Linked DNA regions of Homo sapiens. The protein of the gene in region 2 interacts with the protein of the main gene of each other region in a biochemical or structural test. Each region holds a gene or a part of one and is shown on either strand. Other genes may lie near its edges.

Region 1 (4,334 bases), on a different chromosome or scaffold from region 2:
TGTATAAAAATTGAATAATACCAAAAAAGGGTCTCATCTTTGCATTTTATTTTACAAAGATACCTGAGCACAGATGATATCTCACAATTTTTTTTGAGAATTGTCAGCCTAAAGATCACTTTCTTATTGGTTCTTAAAAAAATATGAGCTAAAACAGAATAGTTTATTTTTTTGGAATTAGTACCAGTTCTGAAAGTAAGGGGAATAAACATTTTCTACTTTACAAAATAATAACAAAATATACCAATGAAATTAAACATTTTGTTAATTAGCATTAGTTTACATTTTAATAAAAATAAATACCTTCCCTCTTTAAAAAAGAATCAAGTACACTTATTTTTTTAAGTAAAATCAATTCACATTCAGAATTATAGTGTAGCATAGCTTAATAGAATTCATTCACATTAATCTGCGCTAAAGCCCAAATATAATGCTTTCCTTTCAAAATGTAAGCCTTTGTCATTTAATTTACATTTGTACTTTTATAGCATAATGTCTGTATCTCTAAAAATTGTCTGCAATTCTAGTAATGGCATTATAGGAGGCTGGTTGCTTTGTTGAAATGCTCAATTACTTATTCCAGAGACATGAACTGGTTATTAACAAATTAACTGAGAATTTCCATACACTGCAAAATTAAAGTTATTAACAAAAATTACTATTATTCCAGTAGTCATGATATTAGCATTCTTATTCCACATCAGTGAAAATGTAAGATATAACAGAAAAATAAACTTGGCTGAGCATGGTGGCTCATGCCTGTAATCCCAGCACTTTGGGAGGCCAAAGCGGGAGGATCACTTGAGGCCAAGAGTTTGAGACCAACCTGGCTAACATGGAAAAACCCCGTTTCTATTAAAAATATAAAAATTAGCAGGGTGTAGTGGTGCATGCCTGTAATCTCAGCTACTTGGGTGGCTGAGGCATGAGAATCCTTTACATCTAAATATCCTGAGACTAGTACTGGCATAATAATGTTTATGAACTATATAAGTCAATCTATCAATCAAAGTTTAAATGAACACTGGCAATGAAAAAGACATAAGTAAACTGAATGCCTAATTTAAAATGACAGTTAAGTTCTTCAGAAGAATGTTTTAACCGGAGCTTTTGCTTAACTACACTATTATGAGTATGCAAAAGCTAGGAAGAAGAAAAGAAAGCAGTCCTAATAAGGTAGCAAAGAGATGACTGTTAATTGGAAAATTTAGAGTATTTTATCTGCATTTTACTGCAATAATTATTAAGACAAAACTGAAATACGAGGTCCTTTAAAATAAATATCAAATCTTAAAAGGTTATAAATTGTGCTCTCAGGTACAAAAGAAAATTTCATACTTTATCCAAGAAAAAGGATTTGTATTTCAAAATAGAAAGTTTACATTATTTATATTCTGGAAATGCGTATATTACTAATTAGAAAGTGATTATATTTAAATTATTACTTCTGAATTACAATAAAATCTGGTGGTTTATAGGATTCCTTAAGTATAACATTTAGGCAACTATAAGTTTTTACTTTAAAATAGAATAGCTGGGAAGATTTTGTATGGATTTTTATGAATAAAGAATAAACAAAACCTTGTAAAGTTTTTTTAGTTATAATGAAATAATGTTAAGACACAGTGTGATGGGCCACATTAGTTGTCCATAGACTTCAACATTCTGCTCAAGGAAGGGTTCACATGTATGAATGTTAACTGGTTTCCATGAAACTGACCTCAAAAGATTAAAACAAAACAGAACGCTGAATAGAGATAAAAGTTACCTTGCCTCCGCAGTTCATTTTTAACAGCTTCAACACCTCCTGTTTTTTCAATAAAGTCATATATAACTTTTGATGTTTCTCTGTCTTTAAGTTGTGCCTCTGAGATTCCACACATATCGAAAAGATTCTTCAATTCTGGATCCAAATTATTCAGCTACAAAAGAAAGTAACTGCTAACTATAAAAATATATCCCAATTTAAAAAACATAATTTTAAGTCTCATCTGTGTCCTTCTGAAATTATTTTGCCTAAACTTTTAACATGCTTATATTACTTATGTGCTAACTAAAATATTTTATTAAAAAAAACTGAACAGATATATTCCCTATTTTATTCTTCTTTTTTGTTCCCTGCCTTCAAAAAGAGGGCATCTCATTTAGATTTCTATTAGCCTATTCATGATTCAGACATCTCCAATGCTCATTTATTCTACCTTGTCCTAAGTAAGTATGTAAAAATCAGGAATAAACACAAAAAAAGTAAATTAATTTGAAAATCTGAGAGCAAGGATCTTCCTGTAATCCCAAGCACCTTGCACAATGCCCAGCACAAGAGGTGCTCAGTATGTTTGTTGAGTTAACATTGTAGCTATAACAAAAATAACTAAAAATATTTTTTACTCCAATCACAAATAATATCTCTTTAAAATAATGCATCCAAACGCTGATTAATTTTTGCCAGCAGTTTCACAGTGCTATAAAACAACGGCAAAACTGCCAAAAAGAACAGGAGAATGAAAAGATCTGGAGAATTCAACAACTGAATATTCAGAATTTGATTATACTACTTTCTAGTAATTTGGTATACACTCCCCTGAAATTATCACTTGGCAGAAATGATTTTCTTCTCTTGGCTTTCAAAGCACAAGGATTTTATTTATACAGTGTATAAAGCCAAGGTACACAAAACCTTAGTCTAAGTCTTTAGAGACTTAGCCATGAATGACAGAACAATAATATGGTTTTAAACCTCAGTTGTATACATACATAAAACACAAGCACATTCAAACAGATACTAGAAACCACAAAAATGAATTTAAAAAAATCTAAAATAGGCCAACACATTTCCACATACAGTTATAACGTATATGATTTGAAAACATACTTACATCAAAGCCTGTATTTGGATCCCAACCAACATGTCCAATGTGCCTGAAGTAGAAAATAGAAAAAAAATAGAAAAACAAAATGCATAAAGGGCATTATAAACACAATATATATGAAACCCAATCTACATTTGGCTTTGAATTTTTGGTCTGAACTAACAGTTCTCACAGACATAACCATATTGTGATAAAAACTATGTACAAGGAGTCAGAAGAACAGGATTCTAGCCCTGACTCTGCTACTAACTGAAACTTAAAATTTTTGTACAATCTCTCTGAGCATCTATTTCCTTAATTGTCAAATTAGCATAAGAGTCCAAGCATTATATATATGACGGGATAAGGGTTTCATAATGAGCTAATAAAATAATGCATATGAAAATGCTTGAAATATGTTAAATACCAAAGGTTTTTACTGCCCCTAGGCAGTATCTGTAAACAATTTCTAAATGCTATTTTTAGAGCAAAGTGAGAAATCATTTTTATGTTCAATAATTAGTTGAAGAAACAACTTTATCTAATTTTTCTTTTCTCATAGTTGAAAAAGTAAATAAACCATAAGATTCCAAGAACATCTATTGAGCAGCTGCCTTAAAAAAAAAAAAAAACTCCAATAAAGTACATAGTTAAAACGGTATCCAAGTGATGAATGTACACACCCTCCCGAAAAGAGAAGAAAATTTTCTAACAAGTTAAAAATCAAGAACAGCAATGAATAAATCAAAAGTGAAGATAAGAACAACAAAAGAACTGTCTTACTGGAAATTGCTTGGTGTTCCTATATCTGCCTTGGTTAATCTCTTCTTTTTAGCTTTTCCCTTCTTCTTTTCTTTGGTATGGGAGATGTTGTTGACTTGTGGACCATAAAATCTATTTGTTGTGATTTCTGGATTTTTTATATCAACTGTAGCCATGGGTAGATTAGGACCTGCAAATAAAACCAAATTATATAAAAGGGATATAATTTAAGATAACTGATATACAATCATAATTTACAATTTAAATACTTTTTCTGAAATAGGATCACTTCATTATAAATTATTTATATTTTAAACTTCTACATTTTTTTCATAAAGTGCTGCCTAAATTTCTAAAACCTGTTAAGTTCTTGAAATGAGTGTAGATGCACTATTTCAAAGCAAACTTACATTTTTATGCCATTAAATTTCATAAAGAATATGAACTTCCAGCTAGAATTTAAATATAATTAGTCTAATCTCTTAAATTTTGATTATAATAGCCTCATATCCAACACATTGCTCAACAGTAAAGTGAAACATATCTTGTAACAAGGATAAAGAAAGTAAAGTATCTATTTTTGTTTTAAATTTAACAAAGAAATATAGCCTTAACTCTTTGTTTCAACTTTATTAGTCAAGAAGAAAAAGGGTACTTAAAATTATTACTACCATTTTTTCCAGAACTGGCATCCTTAAGTCAAATGATATTTTCCCCACCAGT
Region 2 (4,334 bases):
TTTCCTAAGGGACTTCGTGAGTGGGGACAGAGTTTGATTTGAAGTAACACAACACGGCTGGGGGCGGAGGCTCATGCCTGTAATCCCAGCACTTTGGGAGACCAAGGCAGGCAGATCACTTGAGGCCAGGAGTTCGAGACCAGCCTGGCCAACATGGTGAAACCCCATCTCTACTAACAATACAAAAATTAGCTGGGCTTGGTGTTGGGCGCCTGTAATCCCAGCTACTCAGGAGGCTGAGGCAGGAGGATCACTTGAACCCAAGAGGCAGAGATTGCAGTGATCCAAGATCGCGCCACTGCACTCTAGCCTGGGTGACAGAGTGAGACCCTGTCTCAAAAAGAAAAAAAAAGTAAATAAAAGAATGCATCTCGAATGGTGCAGCTGTGAGCTAGAGTTCCCCAGATTATGCCCCACCTCTTGCTTTAGGCATGCATGGAGGTGGAACCCTGGCTCTCACCACATACTTCTTTACTCTTGATTTTCAGTCCTGGATCAGTGACATTCGAGCAGGAACCGCCCCTTCATGCAGGAACCACATCAAATCAAGCTGCAGCTTGATCGCCTTCAACTCCGACCGTCCTGGTAGGGAATGGCCATGAGTGTGGATATTTGCTCACATATTCGGTCATCGTCACCATAGATGGGGTGGGGAGCAGGGGCAGGCTTGGTGTATTTGGAGACTTGGAACGGAACTGCTTTGGGGGGCTCAGAGGTGAGCCCCATGCCAGACCTTAGACCCCCACAAACTGGTCCAGGCGCAGTAATCTGATTGCTTTTGATTAGGACATATGTGTGTACAAACCACAGGCAAGAGCATGGCCAGGAGGGCTGGGAGGGGACTGACGCTTGTATTTCCAGCTGTCCCTCTGTGCTCCCTGCTCCTCATCTTTGGGCCCTGGATGGCTGGGGACAGTAGGAACAGAAAGGCTTGAAAAGCCCGTGTGTTGGTTGGCACTCTCTTGATTGCTAGTGGTAACTCAGACCCTCAAGCTGGCTTAAGCAAAAAATGGATAATGTTTCAGCCTAACTAAGAGATCAGGGGCTTCAGGCAGATCGGTGCCCAAAGGCTCACATGTACTGTCGGCCCTGACCTCTCTGGGTCTCTCAGCTCTGCCACCTTGGGTGTTGGCTTCTTTCTCAAGTAAAAGTGCGAAAAGTGGCTGACGGTAGCTGCAAGCCCCATACGAAAGCCCCACGCCCCTTTCGTATGACCCGTGTTAAAAAGAGAGGACCTCTCGCCTAATGTCTTCTGTATCCATCTGAGGCATGGATGGCTCATGCATGGGGCCAGAACCTACCCACAGGCCATTGCTACGTGCAGAGGATATGATCTTGTGATTGGTAGAGGCTCTGGGAAGGTCCGAGGCTGAGCTGCTGGATTTCATCTCTGGGATCCCTGGGCAAGGAGGTGGGTGGCCCTGTGGGGCCTGAAGTCAGAGTCCCCGTGTTTGTTTAACAGGTGTACTGGGCATTGTGCCTCTGCAAGGCCAAGGAGAGGACAAGCGACGCGTGGCCCACCTGGGCTGCCATTCAGGTGAGTGGGTGTCTGACTAGTGGGTGAAGCCTGAAACTTGCACCTCCCTCTCCAGGGCCAGAAATTCATCCTCACCTGGTCCCACTGCCGCATGGCTTGCCAGGTCCCTCCTGTCGCCCTGTCTGTGCACTCTCTGAGAGACAGTGGGGCTCAGAAGGCTTCCTCCTGGTGTAGAATTCCGGCCTGGGCAGTGAGGAGGGAAGCTGTGTGCTCCGGTTGTGAGCTGGATGGAGCGGGGTGTGCAGTGGCCGCCCCAGGCTCCAGGCTGATGCTGGCTCCCTGTCCCTGCCGAGGACTCCACGTTGGATGGCTCTGAGCCCTCCGTCTTCTGCTGGAGTCCCCTCTCCACCAGGCATCCTCCCCAGCCCAGCCGCTCGGGGCCCTCCAAGGAGGTCGCTGTGTTGGGCTGCAGGGGTGGAGATGGGCCCTCACAAAGAGACCTTTTGTGTGCCGCAGCTGCTTCTGGGGGCGTCCAGCAGCCTGCCTGGCAGGCTGTCCGCCTCGAGGGAACAGTTTGCTCGCCTCAGATGGAGGCAGAGCAGCCCAGCTGGCCTCGCCTCTCACTGTCCAGCTGCAGCGGCCGCGGGCCCAGTCTCTCTGGCCTGCATTTCTGGCTGCTTGTTTGGAGGCCTTCGGGTGAGGGAAGGCAGTTGATGCCTGGTCCTCAGGCTGGGTGTGCAGGGTCGTGGAGGGGTTCTGATATGATAATGATGGTGGTTAATAACAATAGTAAAGATTTATGGAGATTGCTCTCTGTACTAAGTACGTTAGCTGAGTTTTCTCATCTAAACTTTTTTAAAAAATTTTTAAAAAGTATATAGAGACGAGGTCTTGCTATATTGCCCGGGCTGGTCTCAAACTTCTGGGCTCAAGCAATCCTCCCAAGTCAACCTCCCAAAGTACTGGCATTACAGGTGTGATCCACCAGGCCCAGCCAACGTTACCTGTTTTTTGTTTGTTTTTGTGACAGGGTCTTGCTCTGTCACTCAGGCTGGAGTGCAGTGGCATAATCATGGCTCACTGTAGCCTTGACCTCCTGGGCTCAAGCAATTCTTCCACCTCAGCCTCCCAAGTTGTCAGGACCACAGGTTTATGCCACCACCCCTCCAGCTAATTTTTAAAAATTTTTTGTAAAATGGGGTCTTGTTATGTTGCCCAGCCTGGTCTTGAACTCCTGGCCTCGAGCTATCCTCCCGCCTTGGCCTCCCAAAGTTTTGGGGCCCCGTCAGATTACCTGTTTTAAGTAAAGAGCCTGATGATTCTTATTAAAGTGACCGAGTCATGTGCACTGCCATCCAGTTTTGGAACGTTTCCATCATCCCCAAAAGATCCCGCATGCCCCTTTGCAGTTAATCCATTTCCACCTCCAATACCACAGCCTCAGGCAACAGCTGATCTGCTTCCTGCCTCTGTGGCAGAGGTCTGCAAACTACTGTCACGGCCAGATCCAGCTGGCTGCCTGTTTTTGTAAATAGTTTTATTGGAACGCTGCCACGCCCATTCATTGATGTATAGTCTGTGGTTGCTTTCTTGCAACAACTGCAGAGTTGAGTTGTGACCGAGACTGTTGAGCCCTGAAATCCTAGAATATTTACCGCCTTGCCCTTCGCAGGAGACGTTTACTGGCCTCTCCTCTATAGAGGGGCCTCTTTTGCGCATCTCACGCAAATGGAATCGCACAATACACGGTCTTTGGAATCTGGCATCTTTCACGTAGCATGTTGTTTTAGAGATACATGTGTGTGGCAGCTTGTATAACAAGTCTGTTCTCATCTAATCTCAGATCTCTTTGAAGTAGGTTTTAAAACAACCCATTTTATAGCTATGAAAACTGAGACTCCTGCAAGGTTAGGAACTTACCCATTGTTATGGCAGGGCCAGAATCAGAACCCAGGTCTATAGGAGCCTGTGTTTGGGTTTGTCTTTTTAGAGACAGGGTCTCTGTCTCTGTCATCCAGGCTGGAGTGTGGTGGTGCAATCATAGTTCACTGCAGTCTTGAACTCCTGGGCTCAAGGGATCGTCTATCCTCAGCCTCCCTAGTAGCTGGGACTATAGGCACACACCACCATGCCCAGCTGATTTTTTTATGTTTTGTGGAGATGGGGTTTTGCTGTGTTGCCCAGGCTGGTCCTGAACTCCTAGCCTCAAGTGATCTTCCCACCTTGGCCTCCCAAAGTGCTGAGATTATAGGCATGAGCCAATGTACCTGGCTTCATGTTTGACTTTTTGATGCTTTTTATCTATGAGGGAGCTAGCCCAAGTTGGTGATGCTTGCAAGGTGGTGAGCCCTCTGCTACTAGGGCTCTTCAAGTAGAAGCTGGACCAGGGTCCTGTAGGCAAGTCCATAGCCTCACTGTGGCTGCAACTGTTCAGAGCCTTGCCTGCATGAGCAGCCCTGCCGGGAAACTGCTCATGGGAAGGTGAGCTCCAGCACCCCTGGAACCTGCCCTAGAGGCACCAGGTGCCCTTCTGCCTCAGAGGTGCCGGTGTCGGGAGAAATGGCCAGGTGGGGCTCTGGCTGTTGCCCTGCCTTCAGAGGCCCCTTCAGCCTCTCAGCTCAGGGCCACTCTTGCCCTTCCGCCCAGCAGCCAGGGGAGCAGAGGGTGAGCAACTTCTGGGTGCGTTTCTGATGTCCAGGCTGTGGGGCGGCAGCTGGGGCCCGCTCCAGTGGGAAAAGGCAGCAGCATGTCATGCTGAGCAGCACAGGTTCTGAAGCTGGCCCTGTCTCTTAGCCGCGTGACTTGGGGCAGTTACTCACCCTCTCTGGGTTTTGGCGTCCTCATCCTCCAGTAGGGG
Region 3 (4,334 bases), on a different chromosome or scaffold from region 2:
TTACTCCTGTGTTTTCATAGAAGAATTTTATAGTTTTAACTTTTACATTTAGGTCATTTTTGTTTTACATTTTGAGGTCATTTTTGTTTAAAGTGTGAGATGTCCTAAATTCACCTTTTTGCATGTGGATACCCAGTTGTTTCGGTACCTTTAATTGAAAAAAACCCTTTCTACATTCTATTGCCTTGGCAATTTTGTCGAAAATTAGTTGACCATAAAAGTAAGGGTTTGTTTCTGGACTCTTAATATTTTTCTATTGATTTATTTTTCCACTGGGCTATCGTTATGTCATTACCAGACTGTCTGGATGATCATATCTTTGTAATACATTTTGAAATCTGGACTGTAAGTCATTTGACTTTGTATTTCTTTTTCAACATTGTTTTGACTATTTTGAGTCCTTTGGATTTCCATATACATTTTAGGATACAGCTTTATCGATTTTTGTAAAAAAGACAGCTGGGATTATGATTGGGATTGCATTGAATCTGTAGATTTAATTGGGGTGATGGTGGTATTGCCAGCTTGACAATATTGAGCCTTCCAATCCATGAACATGGAATTGAGTTTTGAATGTTAAACCAAACTGGTATTCCTGTACCATTTGGTCATATATTGCTGGATTTGGTTTGCTTGTCTGTTCTTATGGAGACTCTGGTAGTATCAGAGTTTAGGTCTTGGGGTGGTGAGGATGAACATTTTAACATGTTTAGTTTTAAAGTATATTTCATTGAACCTCCCTTCTTCAGTGGTCTTTGAAGAGTTTTGAGTGCAATCACCATTGAATTTCTGGCTGGCTTAGCTGTCTTATTTATAAAGTTATTTTAGGCACCAAGAAATTTCTAACTGCATATAACTTTCAGTATTGACAATTTCTCTGATATTTCTCCTTGAACTTTTCAAAACAATGTATTTCATCACTGTTGCCAAAATTTTCAAGACACATTTATCTTAGCGATTATAAAAGAATATACATATTTTAATTTTAAAACATTTGGAATTATGATTAAACATCCTCAGTTACGTGGAGTATGAAAAATGTTTTAAACTGAGTTAAACCTCTGGAACATTATATTTTAATTTCTTTAGGAAATATATTTACTCTCTAAGGAGCCCTTCATTAAATTACTGTAAAGTTACTTGTGACACCACCCATTTAACTTTTTTTTTCCCCCCGCAATATAGCCGGGGTCTCACTATGTTGGCCAGGTTGTTTTGAATTCTGGACCTCAGGCAATCCTCCTCCTTCAGCTTCCCAAAGTGCTAGAATTACAGGTGTGAGTTACCACACGTGTTCACGTTTAACTTTAATATGCTGAAACTTTTTAACAACAGGAACAGATTGGTCTTTTGTTTCTTTTACCTAGAATTCAGATGTATAGAAGATAAATGTGATGTTATAAACAGATTAAATGTCTGTCTGCATTTTAGAGGTCTTAGTTGGCTTGTTTTTATAAGACAGTGAACCATAATTTTGAGCATAATTATTTCTGAATTTTTATATTTGATAGACAAAGAATCGATGTGTTTTCAGTAATTCAGTGTTAAGCATAAAGAAGGAATGTTTTCTGTCATTGCAGTGGGTTTCTTTTTGGTTGCTTTTGAATTATTAGGTGATCATCAGAGAAATTATTTATGGAAAGAAATCTCAGGGAGATGATCTTGATACTATGAACACACGGAATATTTCCCACCTGTTGTTTATACAAGTGATCAAGTAGGTGGTGTACTATACATTGATAGAGAAATGTAGTGTCTTTGTATACAACATTTCAGATGACTTTTTTTTTTTTTTTTTGTAAACTAATTGTGGACAGTGGAAAATAACCAGTCTCATCATTAGCGTTTGAAGTTTGAAAATTTGGTTGTCGGTAAATCAAATTCTGACTAAAGATGTTAAAGGATGTTACAAGGTATCTGCTAGTGGAAGAGGGAGGCATTTTTCATTAGAAAAATACATTACCAACCAGACAAAATAAAATTATTAATTGTTTCACAGACTGCTTAAAGACTGCATTAAATAAAAATGATCAGAACTTTAAATGTTTTATTTATAGAAGACTATTTATTTATTTTTTTACTATCCTGCTTTTTTAGGTTTTACACACGCTGGAAAGATTGGGAATCATGGTATTCTCAGAGCTTTGGTTTACATTTTTCCTTGAGAGAAGAACAGTGGCAAGAAGACTGGGCATTTATACTCTCTCTTGCTAGTCAGGTGAGGATGCTTCAAGTCTTGTTGCTTCTATGAGAAAAGTAAGCATGTAGTCTAAACTGGTTTATTTGAGCAAACCATGTTGGGGGCAATGTGGTCAAAGAAAAGAATGCTTGACGTGGTATCATCAGTCAACTTGGGTTCTAGTGATGACTGCTGTGTATCAAATAAATAGCATCGCAAGTATAGATGAGCATCGCAAGTATAGATTAGCATCGCAAGTCCTCACTGCAGAGCAGGAAGAGTAACGTGTTTTTATATCGAATGATTAAAAACATCAAAAAGTGAAAGCTGTGCTATGACGGTTACATACAGTAGATAGTCTTGGGATTGCTCTCCGTTCCTGCAGCATAGGCTTGATGCCTATGGTACCTATCCAGGTGAGCTCTGTTCTGTCTCTGGGGACACTTAAGATTACTGGTGTAGGTACTTGCATTGCTGTTGCTGATCTGTCAGGCCCTGAGGAACCAGTTGTCAATCTTCATAATGCTCCCTGTGGTGAGGCAATACCTGTGTCATGTAGGCAAAGGAAAAGGGTAGTTTAGCTTACTCTGAACTAATTACCATCAATAGGAATGATTTCTGATTAATGTGGGAATGAAGTTTTGCAAGTTTGCTAACGTCTTTTTATTAATGAAGGCTGCTTGTGACACAGAACTGTGTAGGGTTGTCCCTTAGACTCTTGGTTTCATGCTTTATTTTGTGAAGCACTTCAGTATACCAAACTGTAAAGTACAAATATATATACAACTACTCCTTTTTTTTTGCAGAAAGCACCATGGTTCATTTGAACTTAGAGAAGGAGGTACCCGATCTTTGGGCAATTTGGGCAGGATTCATAGTGGTTGATTTACATGAGACATGTATCTCACACCATGCATTGTAGCTCGATGATGGACCCATTTAATATTAGTATTCACGAGTTAGTTGATACTGCCATTTACATTTGCATGAAACAGGCTCACTTATTTATTTCAGGAGGACTTTGTTGTAGGTAGTGCTTTCACAGTAACTTAACGAGAATGTGATAATAAAGCATCCTTAGTTATCTGAATCTCTGGTTCCTGAGGTTGGAGAGTTAGTAGTGAGGGATATTTCAAAGTATGTATGCACATCTGTATAATTTGTGAGTTTGGATGGTAAATGATATTTGCATGTAGCCTTTATAGATTTCTTTTACAGTTTTACTGGATTTATTATTTGAGGAATCAAATGCTGCTTTGACAATCTTTTCTTTCTTAAAAACCAACTGCGATAGTATACTGAAGGGGAGGTAGTATTGTTTTTTACACATCAGTTTTCCAGGAGTGGTAATAAATGTTTTAAGTTTTTGTTTTGTTTCGTACAGCCTGGAGCAAGCTTGGAGCAGACGCACATTTTTGTACTGGCACATATTCTTAGACGACCAATTATAGTTTATGGAGTAAAATATTACAAGAGTTTCCGGGGAGAAACTTTAGGATATACTCGGTTTCAAGGTAAGCCATTATTCAGGAACGTTTTACAAGTTTCTTTGAACGGAATGGCTCAGATGTCAGGAAGGAGCAGTGGACAGGGGAATGTGAACAAGGGCAGTGAGGGAGTGGCTCTTTCTTCCTGTGACTGTTGGGATTTTCTTCCCTCTCTTTCCAGGTGTTTATCTGCCTTTGTTGTGGGAACAGAGTTTTTGTTGGAAAAGTCCGATTGCTCTGGGTTATACGAGGGGCCACTTCTCTGCTTTGGTTGCCATGGAAAATGATGGCTATGGCAACCGAGGTGCTGGTGCTAATCTCAATACCGATGATGATGTCACCATCACATTTTTGCCTCTGGTTGACAGTGAAAGGAAGCTACTCCATGTGCACTTCCTTTCTGCTCAGGAGGTAAGCAGTTTCTCCTATGAACTATTTCTAGTAGTGACCTTGTACCAGAAACAGCCTGAAGTGCCTTTCAGGTGTGGTTTTATCTGCACTATCACTTAATTTCTGAATGTGATGGTAGTAATTGCTGAAGGTACTAGCTATACTTTGAAATTTACCTTTTCAAAACTGCTGTATGGGGACACATCAAGGAACTTAAGGTGGTGATGGGTTTTAAGAAGAAAAAGTAAAGATGAGGTTTGTGATTTAAATATGGCATT
Region 4 (3,940 bases), on a different chromosome or scaffold from region 2:
AGTGACAGTAAATTTGGCTGTCTTCAGAAATTATGCTTAATCAAAATTCCTAGTAAAAATAGAAAGCTGTATATGGAAGAAAATATCCTGCCAGTGAGAGGCCCAAAGCTGCCATTACCTATCCTTTACCGTATTTAGGTTTTGCTAAAATGCTACCTTTCCAATGAGGCCTTCCCTGAACACCTTTAAAAACAGATTCCCCTCCCTGTACTCCCTAGCCCCCTCCCCTGCTTTGATATTTGCCACAGCACTTCCATCTACTGGTATGGTACTGTTTGTCTCCCTCAATACAATTGGTTAGCTCCAGCAGGGCAAGGAACTTTTTTGTTGTTTTGTTTTGTTTTGAGACGGAGTCTTGCTCTTCCACTCAGGCTAGAGTGCAGTGGTGTGATCTCGGCTCACTGCAACCTCCACCTTCTGGGTTCAAGAGATTCTCATGCCTCAGCCTCCCTAGTAGCTGGGATTACAGGCGTGCGCTTGGCAGGAATTTTTGTTGTTGTTGTTCAGTTTTGTATCCCCAGGGCTCGGAGCACTTAGTAAATCTTTTTTTTTTTTTGAGACGGAGTCTTGCTCTGTCACCCAGGCTGCAGTGCAATGGCCCAATCTCTGCTCACTGCAACCTCTGACCCCAGGTTCAAGTGATTCTCCTGCCTCAGCCTCCCAAGTAGCTGGGATTACAGGTGCCCACCCCAATGCCTGGCTAGTTTTTGTATTTTTAGTAGAGACGAGGTTTCATCATGTTGGCCAGGCTGGTCTCGAACTCCTGACCTCAGGTGATCCGCCCACCTTGGTCTCCCAAAGTGCTGAGATTACAGGCATGAGCCACCGTGCCTGGCCATCAATAAATCTTTACTTAATGAACAGGACTGTAAAAATGTGATGTAGGAGCAAAACGTACACGCTGTTATTAGCCTGACTTTAGTTTTGTGACCACTGAGTCATATGGAGCTGTGAGACATATGTAGGATCCAAAGCATGTCACTTAAATCTCTGTGAGAGTTGTGGCTTTCCTAGAGATAGACTATTAGAATACAGTAAGAAAGGACTACAAGACTGCCTCTTTTAGAATAGTAACAATAAAACAGAGCTCAGCTTATCCTTCATGGTCATAAGAAAAATTTCCCAGAATGTCTGCTGCCTCAGCTCACATGTCCAGCCTGATATTTCTGGTTGATGTGCAACCTTAACCACTGAGATGGTAACCCTAAACTTGCTTAGGCAAGTAAGCCCATTTTATTGAGAAGGAAACCCCAAATTGCTTGGAAGGCAAAACTGTTTTCTTAGAAGACTAGTATTTAGAATTAAGTACAGATATGCCATACATCAAACCCATAGTATTGTTATTTTTAAAGTTTGAGAATAAACTATGTGTTTTGCATTTTAAGTTCCTGTAGTGTTTAAGAGAATTTGGCTTTTTAGGGCATCTATAAGATTACTCTTGTGATTCAAGTATAAAATATGATTGAGTAAAGATTTAGACTTAATTATTTTAAGTTTAAAGGTTTAAGAGAATTTTGCTAAGTTTGTAAAGGTTCTTGAATATTTAAAATAAATGCAAAAGTCACCTAATTTATGTGAAATTATAAAAACTACTTAACTACTTAAGAAAGCTTTATTAGACAATTGAGGATTTAAAAGCAAAGTAAAATTAAACCTAGAAATGAAGTTTAAGTTAAGCTCTCTTAAATAAGATGTAGCCTCCTCCCTAAAAGTTAAAATGGCTTTAAAAATGAAATATTATTTTTCAAATATTAATTTTTCAAAAGTAATTGCAATTTGTTTCTCCTAGGCATAGGTTTCCCACAAGAACACCAAAAAATGGCATGGACAGATTTGGAGCCAAAGACCTAGGTTCTAATTCTAACTCTGTCACTAACTCACTTAGGCAGGTCATTTTATTTCTCGGTGCTTTTGTTTCCTCAGCTGAACATGATGGGACTAGGAAGATTTTTTTTCCCTATTTTACCCATCTCTAATTATAAAACTGGACAGTTACTGAAAAGGAGAATTTTGTAATATATCAGCCACTTTAGAGCAATCAAGTCAAAATGAGCCATAAATATGTGTAACTTCAGCCCTCTTCAAAGTACTCCAATGTACTGACCATCCCAGTTCTGATGGTCATAGGCTATTTCAAGCCCATGATTTCCAAATCAGTAGTGAGGTGATTTGCTACACAGCTTAAAAGTTACCTCCATGTATTGGCATCAGGATCAAAAACTTCTATGGTCTTCAAGTATGTTGTGCCATCAAAACCTCCTACTGCCATGAGCTGTCCATTGACCACTGCCAGGCCAACCTACAAAACCAAAATACAGTAAGCTGCTGAAGAAACTAGACAATCGTAAGGAAATTATAGACTGGTTTCTAGATAAATCTATTTACAAAAGATAATTCTTTATGGCCTTACATTCTGGTTTACTGAAACACAGGGAAAATGTAACAACAAAAGTCTATCAAATTATGGGAACTATAAAATTATATATTCAATTAGAATATTCACACAGAATCCAAAACATGTATTTCTTAAATTTTAGAAAAACTGTTCACTAGAAGTGAGCAAACAACCTCCAAACTGCTCTCACTTCCTCTGGTATTTGCCTGCTCTAATCTTTCTAATTGCTAGTAAAATTCTCTTTTAAAAATACAAATCTAGGCCAGGCATGGTACCTCATGCCTGTAATCCCAGCACTTTGGGAAGGCCCAGGTGGGAGCATCACTTGAAGCCTGGAGTTCAAGACCAGCTTGGGCAACACAGTGAGACCCCTATCTCTACAAAAATAAAGTAAAACAGAAAAATATAAATCTAATCATATTGTCACTTTCCTCTAAAAACTTTCTCACTTTGGGAGGCTGAGGTCGGTGGATCGCTTGAGCCCAGGAGTTCGAGACAGGCCTGGGCAACACAGTGAGACCCTGTCTTTACAAAAAATACAAAAATTAGCTGGGTGTGGTGGGGCATACCTGTAGTCCCGGCTACTTGGAAGGCTGAGGCAGGAGGACTGCTTGAGCCTGAAAGGTCGAGGTTGCAGTGAGCTGAGATTGTGTACACTGCACTCCAGCCTGGGCAGCAGAGTGGGACCCTCTCAAAAAAATCTCCTAAAACCAAAACAACTTTCTAAGCCTCCCTACTATTTAAGGGTAAGTTTTAAAGTCCTTATTATGTTACTCAGGCCCTCCAGAAATCTATCTTAGCCCACTATTTAAGCCTCACCTCTTATAGTTTCCCTTTACTCCTAACTAATGAATCCTATTGCTGCAGTAAAACTGGATTAACTGCTAGTCCCTGAAGATAACATACATTTTTCACACCTCCACACTTTTGCACATGTTCCCTGGCTGGTGTTTTCTTCTCCCCTCCCCTCCCCCACCTCCCTCCCTCCTCCCTCCTCTCTCTCTCTCCCTCTCCCTCTTTCCCTCTCTCTCTCTCACTCACAGGGTCTCGCTCTGTCACTCAGGCTGCAGTGCAGTGGCAGGATCACAGATCACCATAGTGAAACCCCATCTCTATTAAAAATACAAAAAAACAGCTGGGCATGGTGGCACGCACCTGTAGTCCTAGCTACTCGGGAGGCTGAGGCAGGAGAATCACTTGAGCCCGGGAGGTGGAGGTTGCAGTGAGCCAAGATCGCACACTGCACTCCAGCCTAGATGACAGAGCAAGACTCCATCTCAAAACAAAATAAAACAAAAAAACAGTTCACCGTAGCTTCCACCTCTTAGGTTCAAGTGATCCTCCCACCTCAGCTTCTTAAGTTGCTGGGACTACAGGGATGCACCACTACATCTGGATAATTTTTAAATTTTTTGTATAGATGGGGTCCCACATGTTGCCCACGCGGGTCTCAAATTCCTGGGCTCAAGTAATCCTGTCTCTGCCTTTCAAAGTGCTGGGATTACAGGCATGAGCCACCGCACCTGGCCCTGGCTACTGTTTTCT

Evidence for each region.
Region 1: the proteins of CORO7 (region 2) and WASL form a complex in vitro, tested with the Homo sapiens proteins (one study listed by BioGRID).
Region 3: of the proteins of CORO7 (region 2) and ZRANB1, one has a biochemical effect on the other in vitro, tested with the Homo sapiens proteins (one study listed by BioGRID).
Region 4: the proteins of CORO7 (region 2) and KLHL20 form a complex in vitro, tested with the Homo sapiens proteins (one study listed by BioGRID).

The regions. Positions count from the first base shown.
Region 1 is NC_000007.14:123,692,947-123,697,280, forward strand, and holds part of WASL (actin nucleation-promoting factor WASL), read right to left. Parts: intron 3,802-4,334; coding exon 3,633-3,801; intron 2,920-3,632; coding exon 2,877-2,919; intron 1,923-2,876; coding exon 1,769-1,922; intron 1-1,768. UniProt on the Homo sapiens protein: Regulates actin polymerization by stimulating the actin-nucleating activity of the Arp2/3 complex. Involved in various processes, such as mitosis and cytokinesis, via its role in the regulation of actin polymerization.
Region 2 is NC_000016.10:4,409,559-4,413,892, reverse strand, and holds part of CORO7 (coronin-7), read left to right. Parts: intron 1-488; coding exon 489-585; intron 586-1,462; coding exon 1,463-1,537; intron 1,538-4,334. Other genes in the region: CORO7-PAM16 protein, read left to right, coding at 489-585, 1,463-1,537. UniProt on the Homo sapiens protein: F-actin regulator involved in anterograde Golgi to endosome transport: upon ubiquitination via 'Lys-33'-linked ubiquitin chains by the BCR(KLHL20) E3 ubiquitin ligase complex, interacts with EPS15 and localizes to the trans-Golgi network, where it promotes actin polymerization, thereby facilitating post-Golgi trafficking.
Region 3 is NC_000010.11:124,979,612-124,983,945, forward strand, and holds part of ZRANB1 (ubiquitin thioesterase ZRANB1), read left to right. Parts: intron 1-1,613; exon of another isoform or gene 1,614-1,717; intron 1,718-2,097; coding exon 2,098-2,218; intron 2,219-3,563; coding exon 3,564-3,693; intron 3,694-3,847; coding exon 3,848-4,077; intron 4,078-4,334. UniProt on the Homo sapiens protein: Ubiquitin thioesterase, which specifically hydrolyzes 'Lys-29'-linked and 'Lys-33'-linked diubiquitin. Also cleaves 'Lys-63'-linked chains, but with 40-fold less efficiency compared to 'Lys-29'-linked ones.
Region 4 is NC_000001.11:173,780,483-173,784,422, reverse strand, and holds part of KLHL20 (kelch-like protein 20), read right to left. Parts: intron 2,300-3,940; coding exon 2,193-2,299; intron 1-2,192. UniProt on the Homo sapiens protein: Substrate-specific adapter of a BCR (BTB-CUL3-RBX1) E3 ubiquitin-protein ligase complex involved in interferon response and anterograde Golgi to endosome transport.